Linked DNA regions of Homo sapiens. The protein of the gene in region 1 interacts with the protein of each later gene in a biochemical or structural test. Each region holds a gene or a part of one and is shown on either strand. Other genes may lie near its edges.

Region 1 (8,112 bases):
ACACACGCCAGAATTCACGCTTAAGCGCCTCAAAGCCTCAAGGCCTCGACGCTGCCGCTGCCTGGCAGGAAATGTGAAATCACAGCAAAACAGACTCATCCTTGGCCACCCGGACACCACAGCAAGAGGCACGGCGGGAGGAGTGCACTCCTGCGGAGGGAGGTGGCTCGCAGCAGGAGGACCGGACAAAGGACCCGAAGTGAGGCCACGGCTTCCCGTCGCTCTGCACCAGCCCCACCCCAGGGCTCCCAGCAGAGCTGAATGTCCTTGTATGGAAATAAAAAGTGCCTGGGCTCCTTCTGGAACCTACACAGGTCTGAGGGGTCAGGTGTGCACCTGGTCACACGCACACAAACCATGATGCTCGAGGCCCATGGGGGAGGCCCAGCCCCATTCCCCGGGGCAGTACCCAGCAAGCCACGGCAGCCTTGCTCCTCGGGGCGGGCCCCCTTCTGACTGCAAGGCCTTCCTGTGTGGCCCCAAGTCTGGTTCCAACTGGCCTTACATACCGCAAGACCATGGTTTTCCAATTCCCTATCACACAATCCTTCTACCTGGGGTGACACTGAATCGGTGAACCCAATCGGTGTATGTTGAACTGGGTTAGAGGGTAGGAAAAGCAGATAATGATCAAATGTGTACACAGACACTTTTCGAACGACTGCAGGATTATGCGGAACCTAACTCAAATGTCACTCATGAGCTGGTGTCCCTGTGAAAAAGAGGCACAGAAGAATCTTCTGCACGAGCACAGCCGGTCCCCGAGCCGCTGCCCGCACCACCACGTGCTGACAGCAGCTTGCGGGACTCCGCCTCGCTTAGCTGATGCGTGTGGCTCATGCTCCAAAACTATTTTCTCTCCATGTTTTTATTCTCCAGGGGCATTTAAAGGACTATGGTTATACCCAATGCTTCTGACGTAAGCTTCCAGAGGCTAGCCCAGCTTCCCAAGGCATGCAAGACAGAACTTTTCTGCAGACAGCCAGCAGGAGCAGGGGTGACAGCAAATGGAGGGCTCTTTTTGTCACATAAGCTGGGGAGGCTGGTTCAAATCCTAAGCAAGTATTATAAGCAATTCAAGATGCTAACGCGTGGTGTGAACTAAGGGTGGCCTGTGCTTGGGAGAGTAGGTTCTGGAGCCGGGAGCCCTGTCCTCAGGAAGCGTTACTGGAATACTGTTCTCACGCCTGCGGGACTGTGGGTGACCCCGGAACCAAGCGAACAAACACTACTAAGGAATACACTGTGAGTGAGACTCAACTGGTCAAAGCACAGACAGAAAAGTGGGTTACACATACGACTCGACTCTTACCTGGTAATAGAGGGAGGCTGCGCCAGGCTCCGGTGGGTACGGCAAAGAGTACTGAGGCTGGTAGGCATCGTACAAAGGCCGGTAGTAGTAGTAGGCGGCCAGGTCCTGAGGCGGTGGGCCGGGGGCAAGTGCAGGCACTGGCTGTGGCCACGGCTGCTCTGACGGCACAGCTGCCTGGCCGGAGCCACTGGACACCAGAGACACGCTAGAGGACTGAGGAGGCCGAGGGGGCAGCTGCTGACCCGCGTCGACCAGAACCAGACTTGCTGGTGACTGTGCTGAGTTCTGGGCCTGTCCCTGTGCGGGCAGACTTTCTGGATTTGACAGCTCCGAAAACATGGCTTTGGGTAGTTGTGGGGGAGAAGCCTGTTGCTGGGGTGGCACCAGCTCCTGCTGGGCTCTTTCGAGGCCAGGCTGGCCCTGGGCATCTTTCGTGACCTGCTGATAAAAACGGTCAAGGTTAGGCGCCCCAGGCCCAGATTGTCTGGGATGACTGGCAACACTTTGCTGAGAAGCGAGGCTGTCAGAATGGGACGGGTTGTACACGTTTACAGGATTTTCCAAAGTCCTGCTTAAGGTAAAGTCTAGGGCTCCGTAAGTGTCTTCCTGATGACTGGAATGGTTTGCCTTATTACCATCAGGCACCAGGGTGCCGTGTGCAGGTGGAACTAACACCACACTTGTGCTTCCAGCAGGGCTATTAGCAAATCCGGGAAGAGCACTTCCTGCCTTACGATCCTTTTGACTTTCTGGAACCAAGTTCTCTGGAACTGGCTGGGATGGTGGTTGAACCAGCAAATTAGCAGGCTGATTAGAAACCATTTCGGAAGCACCAGAACCTTGTGGAAAATTACTTTGGGCAACACTGCTAGGCAGAGACAAGCTAAGGACAGAGCTGGTTGGAATCCCAGACAAAGAAGTGTTCTCCCCAGAATCACCACCGAGAGCCCAACTGCTGACTGCAGGTCTATCCCCCACCAAAGCCTCTCTCCAGGACTGATTCTTCTCATGAGAGTTCGATAAGGACACAGAAAAGTTAATGGGCTGAGCCAGATTATAGCTGTGATCAGGCTGAGCAATCAAGACTGGAGGATTCTGCAGAGACTCAGTGGGCGGTGAGGATAATAAACTTGCATAACCAGAACTCGCCTGGGACTGAAGGGCCTCCTCCTCTCCCATTTTGGGAGGATTCTCAAGGTTCTCAGAAGCACCAATGCCACCTCGGCTCTGCACCGGGGCCGCCGAGCTTGGGTTCCGTGACTGCTGCCCGGACATCGCCTCTTCTGGAGGCTGAACAACAGGTGGCTGAGGTTTTGCACACACATAAAGCGCCGGGGCTGCAGGGGCCAGAAGGACGTTGCCTCCAAAATCTGGCAGCTCACTTTGCGCCCACAGAGTCGTTGCTGGGCTCTCACACTTCACGGGCCCCTGGGTCCTGGCTGAAGGCCTCTTCTCGGGTGCTGGATACACAGTATCCAAGGGCGGTGCCCCTGCGTGCGGAAGCATGTGCACAGCTTCCGTGGTGGAGTTAAGAGGCAGGGGACAGACCTGGGGTGCACAGAGGGTCTCCATGTTGTCTGGTGGCTGCTCCAGGTTGCCAGGGGAAGCATCGGGCAGGGCGGCAGCTGGTCTGCACTGCTTCTGGCGGACACAGGTCTCCCTTACTTCACCAACCACGTTGGCGCGATCTGCCTCAAATGGTTTTACCCCAACTAAGTGAGATTTTACCGGTTCGAAAGAACTATTTGCACTTGTCTGAAATATTCCTGTAGGTTTCGGGGGGCTCGGGGTTGAGGGCTGGGACACGCTGCCACGGTAATTCTGGCTCACAGTGGTCTCGTCTGTTTCACCTCCTACGGGAGAAGAATCGATTTGCTTAAAAAAACTACCTGAAGCTTCATCCTCGGGTTTTCCAACTTCTTGCTGAATGAATGTGCCAACCAGCTCCTGGGGCCTGGCTGAGCCTGAGAGCCTTCCGTGGCTTCTGCTGCTATAGCTGGATGACACGCTGTCAGGGTGCACTGTATGCAGTGTGGCATCAGGGGCTCCGGTGTGGCACACAGCACCATGCCTGGGCACAGCTGGCCCAGGAAGGGGCCCATATCTGAACTGGTCACTCGGGGAGGAAGGGTCCAAATTGAGGGGCTCACTTGGCAGAACTTCTTGATTCTGAACAAATTCTAAGTTCTCAACATTCTCATACTGCGAGCCGCTGGCATCCGGCACCCCTGTGCTCGCTGTGTCACCCCACACATCACCAGCAGCCTCATTGCTGGGGCCTGGGAGAAGGGCCTGGCAGAGGCTGCCTGCCCCCACGTGTGTAGGTGCGGGCGGACGGCCTAGCCCAGGGCTGGAGCAGAAATCGTCAAAGTCCGCTTGACCAGATAAGCCTGCTTTTTCAGATGAGAGATTCTCCTCATTTTCTGTCTCTCCCCCTTGGAAAAACATCGCCAGAGCTCCTGAAGCTCCTGAGTCTGCTTCTAGCGGGGCACAGCCAGACCCGGCCCCAGCCCCCAGTGGGTGGTGCGTACGGTTTTCTGGGCTATCTCCCCGGGCGAGGGGGTTCACAAGAGCAGAGGCGGGCCGGTGCTCATTCTTCACTCCTGGATTCTGCCTGAGCTCTGGGCTTGCCCAGTGATTCACAATTCTGGGATTTTGCCTGAATGTACTTTCAGGATCAGAGTTATTGGCCAGGTGGCTTCCACTTTGCAAGTGGCTCACCTCGTCTCTTCCGTCACTGGGCAAGGCTGCTGGGGGAGCCACCAGAGGGCTGTGTTGCTCATGACCAGGGCCCTGATGTAGGATGGACGGGGTGGGGAAATGAGGAACGCTGGTGGCACAGGGCACCCCGCTGGGAACAGGTCCTTCAGGGCAGGGTGAACGATGTTGCCCCGAGGGCTGTGGGCCTCCCTGCACTGGCCCCCACTGTCCTGGCATCTGCAGACCAGGCTGAGGGAGGGAAGGGGATGCTGCTGGGGTGACCACACCGTCATGTGGGTTTTGCCTGCTCAGGGGTCGGTCGAGCCCAGGCATGTTCCCATGAGGGTGGCCCCCATGAGACGTTTCAGGATCCACTCCTGGAATGTAGTGAGGAAGATATGGCAGAGTCTGAACTTCAGGCTCTGAACTGGGACCGACCTCTGCACTCCTGTTCATCTCAGGCCCAGGAGGTGCTGAAGGTGTCAATGCACCAGAAAACGGACTGGCATGTGCTCTGGGCTGTGTCAGAGGTCCAGGCAGGGGCTCACAGGGTCCCTGAGAGCTATCTCTGGCATGTGTGTGAGGAACAAGCAAACCGGGGTGCTGAGAAAACCCTGCGGGGGCTGGGCCTTGCAAGACAGGTGGACTGCTTTTGGACGAACTGCCCAGTGGTGTACTTTGGAGCGCCTGTCTACTAAAAGCAAATGGATCCGTGACCGGCTGCAACGGGCAAGTTGTCGGAGCCACTGCTGCATTATTATTAGCCCGTCTCCTGTAAGGGCTGCTAGCCCAGAACACGCTCCGAGGATTCCCGGCTGGAGGTGGCCCAGCCATGCCAGACGGGACCGTCTGGGGCGGTGGCTGCATGACTGAACCCTTGCACAAGTCGATGCTGCTTACAGAAGGAAGCAGGATATAGCTGTTCCTTAATTGGAGCTGGAAAAGAAAAAGAGAAAATCAGCATAAAATCCATATATTCAAAGTCCTAGCTGCAATCAGGAAAACTAAGGAAAAAGAGAAACATTGAACATGATTTTATGTCACTTAAATCCCAAGGACTCTCTCTCCCCTACACCCCACCCCAGCAGAGAACACCTGTCCCTGAGGAACTGTTCTGGGGGGCAGGGGACAGAGTGAGAACCCTGGATGGCCTGGCTGCGAGCTGATGGAGTATGTCTAGATGGCCACTCCCTCCCCTGGGATCCTCTACTCACAGGGCCCATTGCTGCCGCAGACCCGCGCCACAACAACAGGGACAGTGCGGAACCTGACCACTGCTGTGATATGCTACCAGACCCACAGATACTCAATGTTTTCCTGTAAACCATCCCTAGATCCAGGAAGAGCCAACTCTTCTATTAAGAAAGAAAAACTGGCCAGATATGGTGGCTTACGCCTGTACTCCCAACACTTTAAGAGGCCAAGGCGGGAGGACCACTTGAGCCCAGGAATTCGAGGCCAGCCTGAGCAACAGGGGGATCTCGTTTCTACAAAAAATACAAAAATCAGCCAGGCATGGTGGTGCACACCTGTAGTCCCAACTACTCAGGAGGCTGAGGCAGGAGGATTGCGTCAGCCTGGGAGGTTGAGGCTGTCGTGAGCTATGACAGCACCACTACCCTTCAGCCTGGGTGACACAGTGAGTCCCTAGCTCAAAAAAAAAAAAAAAAAAGGAAAACTTTATATCATACTTTCCATACATGTTAATTTTAAATTTCAAAAGGGATACAAAAGTTTAAAATTCATTCTTCCATTTTCTTTGATGAAAGAGCATTATGAAGTATAGTTATAAAAGCTGCAAAATAGGCTGGGTGCAGTGGCTCATGCCTGTAATCCCAGCACTTTGGGAGGTCAAGGTGGAAGGACTGCCAGAGCCCAGGAGGTCGAGACCAGCCTGGGCAACATAGCAAGACCTTGTCTCTACAAAAGAAGAAAGTTAGCCAGACATGGTGGCACACACCTGTAGTCCCAGGGACTCAGGGGGTTAAGGAAGGAAGATCACTTGTGTCCATGAGTTCGAGGCTGCAGTGAGCTATGATTATACCACCGCGGTCCAGCCTGGGCAACAGAGCAAGACGGTCTCTATTTTAAAAAAATAAATAAATAAAAAGTGACACAATCATTTTTTTAAAAAGCACTGCAAAATAAATATATTCATCTAAATGCCTTTTATCACACCTCTTCATAGGTCTCCGTTTTTGTACTGTGACTGGCTTAAGGTCTGAAAGGACCACCAGCAAGATGTTACCTTTGAACTGGAGCCGTAACTGTGCCTGGAATGGAAACTCCCAGGAAACTTAAAGCAGCTTTACAAGGCACAGACTGGATTCCAACACTTTCAACAACAGGCAGAATTGCCAAGAAACCTCTTACAGAAAAGAAAGGGGCAAAAACCTCCATCAGTTTTTAAATAAAACATAGTAGATACAAACTTGAATAGTTAACCTGGCCTCTTAAGGCAAAAATTCAAGGACTATATCTTTAGGAAAGTTCTTTTCTTTCTATCAGTCTTTCTTCTTGTCAGCACCACCCTCATGAACAAACAGATAAGTTTAGCCAATCAAAGGAAAAATTAAACCAAAGGGGAGGACTCTGTAGTTTAATCCACACATTTTTTTTTTTGAGACGGAGTCTTGCTCTGTCGCCCAGACTGGGGTGCAGTGGTGCGATCTCGGCTCACTGCAAGCTCCGCCTCCCAGGTTCATGCCATTCTCCTGCCTCAGCCTCCTGAGCAGCTGGGACTACAGGCACCTGCCACCATGCCAGGCTAATTTTTTGTCTTTTCAGTAGAGATGGGGTTTCACCATGTTAGCCAGGATGGTCTTGATCTCCTGACCTCATAATCCACCCGCCTCGGCCTCCCAAAGTGCTGGGATTACAGGCGTGAGCCACCGTGCCTGGCCAATCCACACATCTTTGCAGATGTATATTATTTTGGTCTCTTGGAAATCTTTCTGATATTCAGATAAAAGAAGAAAACACTGGCCAGGTGCAGTGGCTCACACCTGTAAGCCGAGCACTTTGGGAGGTAGGAGGACCACTCGAGTTCAGCAGTTTGAGACCAGCCTGGGCAACACACAGCGATACCCCATCACCAAAAAAAAAATGCCGGTCGTGGTGGTGCGTGCCTGTAGTCCCAACTACTCGGGAGGCTGAGGTGGGAAGATCGCTTGAGCCAGGGAGGTTGAGGCTGCAGTGAGCCTTGTTCAAGCCACAACACTCCAGCCTGGGCGACAGAGTGAAACTGTCTCAAAAAAAAAAAGAAGAAAACACTGATCAATGTATTTTAAGTCAAGCTATTTACTAGGAACAGCAGCAAAGGCTTCATGGAGGTTTTAGGCTCTCATCTGAAAACAAAGAATGTTCACAGCTCTATTTTATATGGACTGAAAGGAGAACAGGCAGAGCATCTTCCTCTGATCTGTGCACTGGCATTATCTTCCACTGGGTCCTACCAGCTGCACAGCCACAGCAGACACAGCGACACCTGCAACCACGGCCAGAACACGCAAACTTCCAAGCACCTCCTGAAACTCTGCTGCCAGAACTGGGGTCCTACCTCATCTCTCAAGACATGGCCTTCCCCGGGAAGATCCTTATCATCCTCAAAAGCTTTTGTTTGCTTTAAACACAGAGCACGGGCCTAGAGGTTTATTCCTTGGCTGCTGCTGTGAGAGCAAAACTGAGTGTCCAGGTGAGTGGCTCGAGGCAGCCACTCCTCTTTCTGCAATGTATTTTTGTCTATAAAATGCGAGAATCGATGTGATTATTTTTTCCTAAAAAACCCGGGTTTAATCTTATGAGATTCTACTCACAGTGGATTCTGGGATGTCCTAATCCCACCTGCTGTTTAACAGGGGTGGCCGGGCACGGTGGCTCACACCTGTAATCCCAGCACTTTGGGAGGCCGAGGCGGGCAGATCAAGAGGTCAGAAGATCGAGACCATCCTGGCTAACACGGTGAAACCCCGTCTCTACTAAAATACAAAAAATTAGCCGGGCGTGGTGGCGGGCGCCTGTAATCCCAGCTACTCGGGAGGCTGAGGCAGGAGAATGGCGTAAACCTGGGAGGCGGAGCTTGCAGTGAGCTGAGATCGCGC
Region 2 (8,112 bases), on another chromosome or scaffold:
GCCTTGCAAGGTAGGCGGCTTACACTAGGAACCGGTGACGCACAGGTCCCAAAATGGCAGGGTTAGAGTACAGGGAATTGCTGTGACTACTGAGAAGTTGGACTAGTAGCTTCTAAGGTCTCTTCCAACCCTAAGATTCCACTAACTATTCATCAATTATTGATCTACGAGTCTGACCTCTGGTATAGTTTTCCCAATAAAGTCAGCACCCCATTACTCCAAAACCCTATGAAACAATTATCTATATGAACTACTTGATACTTTGCATAAACTATTTCCTATATTCTCCACTTTCTCCAATTTTCACATGTATTTGGTAAACTTTTTTTGAAGACTTTCAAAAGTCAGAATTACACTTTATACCTCTTGGAATCTTGTATTCCTAGCACAATTTCTGGTACATATTTAGCCATCAAAATGCTCTTTTGACAATCCCTCTCAAGTCGGCATCTTATAACACTGCGCCCTTATATCTTGCCATTCATGTCTGTCATTCCCTGTTATCCCCTGATCACAGATCGTATCCTACACCACTCCTATATGCCCCAACCCAGGCCTAGAAGAGGGCTCTGTGCGTATCTAGAAATACAATGAATAAAGAATTCCTTCTACAACTGGGGCTGTTAAATTTTTCAAGTGATAATTTCACTCTGAAAACCAAATTCTGAATTCTGAGACTGTCTTAATCCCTGAAAACTTCATTATTCCAACTGCAAAGATAATACACACCTTCACCCAGGTGGCTATCACCAGAACAAACATGAATAATACTGAAAAATGGTTTGGTTTTCCTACTTGTTTTCCATCCTGGTGGTCTTTCTCCTGAAACCCTCAGGTATTCAATGTCTTTATATGCCCTCTGACCATCCAAATGAGAATTAGGTGAGGGATGAGATCTTACAAAATGCCAGTTGCTACACCAGACATTTTACATTATCATGTCATTTAATTCTTACCAACAATTGGAGTATGTATTATCTAAATTTTTCAGATGAGAAAGTTGAGGTTCAAAGTTTAGTAATTTGCCCTAAACTTCTAATCGATAGCTTTGGGATTTGAAATAAAATCATCTTGGCTTGAAACCCATGGATTTTAACAGAAAAACAACAAGAACGCTCTTTCCTATTCGAGTCTTGAAATAACAGAACCTAAAGGAAATGGCTTTGGTGAGAAGCATACTTTCTCTGTAGCCCTAAGGGCAACCTGGCCTCCAACTTCAAGAGCTTGCTTAGTCCTCTAATTTACCAAGAAAAAAAGTCCAATTCCACCGAGTACCACAAGGGGGAGCTAAGTCCTAAAAAGCCTAGATAAGCTTCTAGACATTAAATGTCTCATTTGGAGCATGGCTCCCTTTAGAAAGATCTGAATAAATATTCTGCCATAAGTGACTCTTTCTAAGAAACAGACCTGACAATCCCTTTCCTGCTTAAAATCTTCCAAGGATCTCTGCCAACAATGGTCTGACCACTCACTATGGTGTACAATTTCCTTTCTGACTTTCCCTGAGTCCCTCCAACAGACCTTCTCCCTCCTAACTCCATACTTTTTTATTTTTATTTTTTCTGAGGCAGGGTCTTGCTCTGTCGCTCAGGCTGGAATGCAGTGGCACGATCTCAGCTAATTGCAACCTCTGCCTCCCGGGCTCAAGCTATTCTCCTGCCTCAGCCTCCCAAGTAGATGGGATTACAGGTGTGCACCACCCTGCCCAGCTAATTTTAACTCCACACTTTAACAACACCAACTGGCCGGGAATGGTGGCTCACGCCTGTAATCCCAGCACTTTGGGAGGCCAAGGTGGGCAGCTCCCATGGGCTCAGGAGTTCGAGACCAACCTGGGCAACATCACAAAACCCCACCTCTACAAAAAATAGCCAGGCATGGTGGTGCACACTTGTGATCCCAGCTACTCAGGAGACTGAAGCAGGAGGATCGCCTGAGCCCAGGAGGCAGAGGTTGCAGTGAGCTGAGATCACGCCAATGCACTCCTGCCTGGGCAACAGAGCAAGACCCTGTCTCAATTTAAAAAAAAAAGAAAAAGAAAAAACACCAACTACCCACGCTTCCCTGGCTTCCCCAAATAACCTTTTCTTCATGCCTCCATTTCTCTGAATGTGTTATTTCTTCTGCCTGACTGCATGCTGCCCGCCCCCCTGCCCACATCCTTCCCCTAGCCCTTCTATTTGACAACTCCAAGTCAAGCTCCCATCTCTTTCGAATCTGCTTAAAGCATATCTCAGCGAATTTCTGGCCTTTCCTATCACTCTCCCTCCACGATGAACCAATTTATGCCACAGATTGTTCTACCATCAGGTAAATACTTCTCTTCCTGCCCATTATCATGTTACATTTCAAGTGACTGTCTTTCTCTCCTGGCTAAACTGAAAGGTCCCTGAAAGGAAGAACCACGTTTGACAGGTGTGCTTGTGCCCAGCTCCAGCATGCAGCAAAGCCTCCTCATGTGCTGAACTAAGAGCCCATTAAAGCCACACACCTGTGGCTCATTTCAGGGTCTCTCTTCAAAGGATCAGGAGTCAGGTTCATAAAGACATTTTAAGTTCTTCACCTCATGCTCAAAATCAACTTAAAAACTGTAATAATCAACATTTTAGTTAAAAAAAAACTATGTTAAACTTACCGACTTAGTTAAATAAAACATGAATGAATATATTAGAAGGATTGCGTTTTCCAAAGGTGTGACACTTGCCGGCTCTTCGGCGGCTGTCTCTGGTTGCTTGTTTGCATCAATAGCATCCATAGGAGTGTCTTCTGTTGTAACTGGCCCTGGAATTGGGAGGAAAGATAGACATTTTGTGCTTTAGAATAAGAATTCTCTTTAAAAAATACTTATTGAGTATCCACTAAATATTAGGCACTGTGCCTGGAAAGTAAACGTTCTCATCTCTCACTGGATGTTTACTGTGCACTGTGGTGAAATACTCTTTGTGTCGGTCTATCCTGGACTATTACACACTACAGTGTTCTGTACTGTCTCCTATGAGCTTATGCTATAAACATACTTGGACCCCTTCACTGTATTTTAAGAAGTTTTACTTACCATGTCCAGATAGCAAATCAAAAAAAAGAACTGCATTGCATTGTATTTTATTTGGAAAGAGAGGGGTAAAGTAGAGGAAAAACAGAATTTGTGAGTTTTAGAGCAGTGGTTCTCCAACTGTAATTTGCATCAGGTCAGTCTTTCCTGGAGGGCTTGTTAAACACAGATTGCCGGTTCCACCCCCAGAGTTTCTGATGCTGCTGGGCTGGTTGAAAACTACTGTTTTAGAGCATAAGGCCTTTTAAGAATAATATTTTAGATTGAAATAATTTACACAAGATAGTGACAGCCAAACATTGGTTTGTAGGTTAGTTATAGTCTCTGGTGTCTTTCCTATTTTTGATCTCCATCTGTCTTGACGCCTGCTTTTCTCTCAATTAGCTCTGGGATCCTTTTTTCCTTTGAATTTAACAAGTCTCTAGCTCCTGCCTTTGACAATGAATCTCCTAGAAGGCCTTCTTTATGATTTCTCCACTTTGTAGAAAAAAATTAGCAGGCTTTACCTGGGTCCAGGTCTTTCTCAGTATTTGGCTTCTGTGACACTTCTGAGGCATGAGTGTCCCCAATCACACGTTGGTCCAAGTGGGTGGGTTCTTCAGGAACCTGCACATTAAGTTCTGCTGTCTTCTCTCGTGAGAAATTATCTTCATGCAGTGGTTGCATCTCTAGGGTGAGAAGAATACACTGGGCTAGCACAGCTTGATGACACTACCTGTTAGGCTAATCCCACTGACCACACCAGGGCACCTCAACATTGACCTCCATGCATGGGCATCCCATGGAGCACAACTGGGCAGGGAAATAAGAGTTTCAGTTTCTTTTATTCCATTTAAAGGATGACTAATCTACATAATAAAATCTACAGAGGAGTATTTCATAAATAAATACATTTATGGTAGGGACTTCAGTAACATCTTTCCTTGGCAAATCAGCCTACACCCACACAAATAAATGTGCAAATGAGAATTCCACTCAAGAGCAGAAATGTGAAACATCTATTCTGCAGAGAAGTAACATGAACTCTTGCATACCCTAGCATGCCTTTCTCACAGAACTAGTACAGACAGGGACATTCCACGCCAAGGCAGCTTGCTGAGATGTCTTTCGAATACTTTCAAAGTACCTCTAAGAGTCAAACAAAGTGAAGCCATCTCCTCTCCTAAGAGGCTTAGGGGACAGTCCAATGTGATCCACAGCAAAGGTGAATTTCCTTGTAGCCTCATATTTTACCCTGAAAATTCATCTGAATATTGCCTTCTTATCCAAAATATATGTTTTAATTAAATGCAAAAAAGTTCTCCTCCCCCATTTCTTAGGAAAAATTAGCACTCTGGAGTAATACGTTTTCCTGTGGCTTCCTGTCCCCTTGGTACTCTCAATTCAGATACATCTGTCTGAAAAGCCTGGATATACCAGGTGCGGTAGCTCACACCTGTAATCCCAGTACTTTGGGAGGCCAAAGTAGGAGGGTCACTTGAGGCCAAGAGTTCAAGATCAACCTGGGCAACATACCAAGACCCTGTCTCTACAATAAATAAAAATTATTTGGGCACAGTGATGCATGCCTGTAGTCCTAGCCACTTAGGAGGCTGAGATGGGAGGTTCGCTTGGGCCTAGGAGTTGGAGGCTGCAATGAGTTATGATCATGCCACTGTACTCCAGCCTGGGTGACAGGGTGAGAGCCTGTCTTAAGAAAAAAAAAAAGAAAAGAAAAAAAGAAAGAGGAAGGAAGGAAGGAAGGGCAGGTGGGCAAAGGGAAAGAAAAGAAAAGAAAAGAAAGAGAAAAGCCTGGATGCAGAGAATAGAACAAGGAACTAGGAATCAGAATGCTTATGTCAGGATATTGGCTCGGGGTTAATTCAACTGAATGGCTTCCACGCATCAAGCACTGCATTCGAAGGCATCCCTGTCCCAATCTTGATTAATCTGCATGCAAGAACCTTACGGCCCAGGAGGGTTTAACTGGAGTAAGTGCTCCCAAGAAACAGGAAGAACAAGCCATCCACAAAAGATAAAATTGGGGAGAACGTAGGAATTTAGCCAAGGCATTGATCTAAAAGTTATACCAGTCAATCCATGGTTACAGAGCAGTTATCTGACGACTGAAAAATTGTGTTCAATAAAACCCTTTCATAATTTTACATGACATTTGTATTTTGTATATTACTTTCTGGTTTATATCTTTCTCTTTAGCTTTTTACAAAGTTTCCTTTTGAAAATGCTAACCAGTCTCAACTATTCTAAGGGAAACGGCAAGAAATTCTTCTCCATGCTCCAGCCTAAAAGAAAGATGGCAGGAAGGAACATGTGGACCTCCCTGTGTTGTCCCTCTCCTTTAGGCACATTGGAAACTGAACAGAGCTTCACAAGATAGGAGGCACCTCAGCGACCCACCCACCTGCTTCTCCAGCCCTGTTCTACAAGGCCATAGGCATCTCACCTTCCATTGCTCCACCCAAGCCTTCCTCTAGAGGTGGTGCCATCACCAGTGTGGCTGTCTCCTCTGCTGTGGAGTGCTTGTACCTGACAAAATAGATGAGGTCTTGAATGTCATCAAGCACTGCAGCCTCTTCAAATATGTTATTTTCGTTCATTCCCAGATCTCTATTTTCAGCCACACGAGTATCAAGCATTTTTTCTGCTATGCTCAGAATTTGTGACTCAGAAGCACGGAAGACCTTATCTAGGACTTTTTCCATATTATAGGGCAGGCTCTCCTGCTGCGCTGACTTCAGTTTTGATGACATTTCTTGTAGCAAGGCTTCCAGCTCATGGACATTAAAGTACTTCTGGAACCGCTGCAAAGACTGTTGTTCTTTAAAGAAGCTGCTTATGATAAGTAAGTCCTCCCTCTTGTCACTATGCCCTGGCTCTACACTTGTATGTGGAGTCCAGTGGAACGAGTCATCTTCAGGTTCTGCAGCAGCAGACCCCTGGCTTTCTGTGCCCATGTACTTCTCTGTGTTCTCATGGTCCTCTTTTGAGAGTTCTCCCTCAGGCTCCCCTGCAAGCCCTGAGGTCTTCAGATGTTCCTCAGGGTTGTCGTTCTTCAGATAATCAGAATCTTTATTCTGAAACACTTCACCTAATTCTGGAGTCTGAATTTTTATGCTGTCAGAAAAGTCACTTCGTTCAAATGGTCTCTGTGCTTTCTTATCTGCCAGAGGGCGTTCTTTTTCCACCATTGTATTTGGTTCCCTGCCTCCTGTGTTGACCCCTTTGGCAGCAGTCTCACTTGTTTTTTCGCTATCCAAAATCATACTAGTTTCTTGCTTGCTTTCTTCAATTTCTGGATCTGGATGAATGGTCCCTAAAACTGCTCTGTCAGGGACTTGCAGATTAACATCAAACTGCCTGCCCTGATTCCCAGGGTTTTTTTCTTTAGACCGTTTTGCATTTATAGCGTTTTCATCCTCTAGTAGTTCTTCAGAGGGATAATCATCCTCTTCTACTTTAGAAAGGAAAGCTGGTCCTCCTGTGCTGTCAGTTTGGTCTGTCTGTCCTACCTCTGTGCCCTGCATTGCCTTGTGATGAAAAAACTCTTCATCCAAGGAGTCCTCTTTGGCTTCTCCCTCAGAGAGCCTTATCTTCTCACTCATTTGCTTACTGGCTGTGGCAGCCACATCTCTTTCTTGTTGCCAGGGAAGATTTCTTCCCAGAATGGGAACCTCGTCTTCCAGTTCTCTGGGCAAATCAATCTCATCTGGAGAGGAGAATCTAGGTTGGTTTTGAGTTTTAAGAACTAATTCCTCTTTCAATTCCTCACGTTGATGCTCCACTGAAAGCGTGTGCAGTTTGGCCCCATTTACCAAAGCGTCTCCCTCCACACTGTCTCTGGATGCGTTAGGGTGGTCATCTCCCATGAGTGGTGCACTACCCAGGGATTCCTGTTGAATCTTTCTGTCATTCATTTGATTCCCTGCAGCTTTCTGTGCAGATTCACTCTCTGAGCCACCTTCCAAAATCTGCTCTCCAGGCTTTTCTTCGTGGAGCATTCCTTTTGAGATATGAATAGCTGCTCCTTTTAGGTCATTTTCTGTATCATCATAAGCTGATTTTAATGTGTCTTTACCCTTTTCAGCAGCTGGCATAGAGTTGAGGTTATTGCTGTGAACAGAACTGTGCACAGTCATGCCTTCTTGATTTTCATCCTCTAATTCTGTCTTATCTTGTACCAGGCCCCTCTTGGATTCCTGAACTCCCCTCCCTTTTCCTTTAATGTGATGTTCTGCGTTTACTTCTTTGTCATTATTTGTTTTAGGAATGTCTACAATAAAAAGACCATCATCTACATTGTCAGGGTCACTATAATCTGTTGCTGACTGTGGTTTCCCCTGTTTGCTATCTGGGACTAATGCATCATCATCATCTTCTTTTTCTTCCTCTGAACTAGAGCTCTCTAAATCCATCGTATCTCTTGTTTCTTCACCTCCTGTGACAATAGAGAAGATAGTGTCCCCCCAGGTTGTTAGTATATTTTTATCATCATTTTTGATGCCAGGGGGCACAGTTAGCTGAACCTTGTCCTCTTCATTTGAATTCTGCTCTTTATCTGTTGGATATTTCTCAACGCCAGACTTTGCTGGAGTTTTCATATCTTCCCCATCTGTAAAGGTAAGTAATGGCAACTCATCAAAGTCTTCTTGGTTCTCCTCATCTTCCTTTCCAACTGCATAATACTCAGTATCCAATTCCTCATCAAAATCATCTTCTAATGAAGTAACGAGTCTGGTTGTCTCATCATCAGATACAAGTGCATCAGCTGTTGAGCCAAATTTGGTTTTCAAGTCTAGAGTCATTTCTTTTTTCAAAAGTTTATAGGCATCAATCTTATCCTGTTCATTTGAGACCTGAGAACTATTGCTGGTTTTGTTGTTTTCACTTTCTGGCACTTTTAGTTTATCTTGCAGCATTTCTTCAAAAGATTCAAATGAAGCCTGCTCTCCCTGAGCATGATTTGCTTGGCTGTTTGCATGGGAGTGGTGCTTCTGAGTTGTAAACTGTTCCTGAAGATCCTCAGTGTTTTCTGAGAATACACTATCACTTTCCTCTGAGTT

Evidence for each region.
Region 2: the proteins of SEC16A (region 1) and MIA3 form a complex in vitro, tested with the Homo sapiens proteins (one study listed by BioGRID).

What each region holds. Positions count from the first base shown.
Region 1 is NC_000009.12:136,472,737-136,480,848, forward strand, and holds part of SEC16A (protein transport protein Sec16A), read right to left. Parts: intron 6,095-8,112; 5' UTR 5,973-6,094; intron 4,949-5,972; 5' UTR 4,880-4,948; coding exon 1,313-4,879; intron 1-1,312. UniProt on the Homo sapiens protein: Acts as a molecular scaffold that plays a key role in the organization of the endoplasmic reticulum exit sites (ERES), also known as transitional endoplasmic reticulum (tER).
Region 2 is NC_000001.11:222,627,773-222,635,884, reverse strand, and holds part of MIA3 (transport and Golgi organization protein 1 homolog isoform 1 precursor), read right to left. Parts: coding exon 5,496-8,112; intron 3,721-5,495; coding exon 3,559-3,720; intron 2,782-3,558; coding exon 2,636-2,781; intron 1-2,635.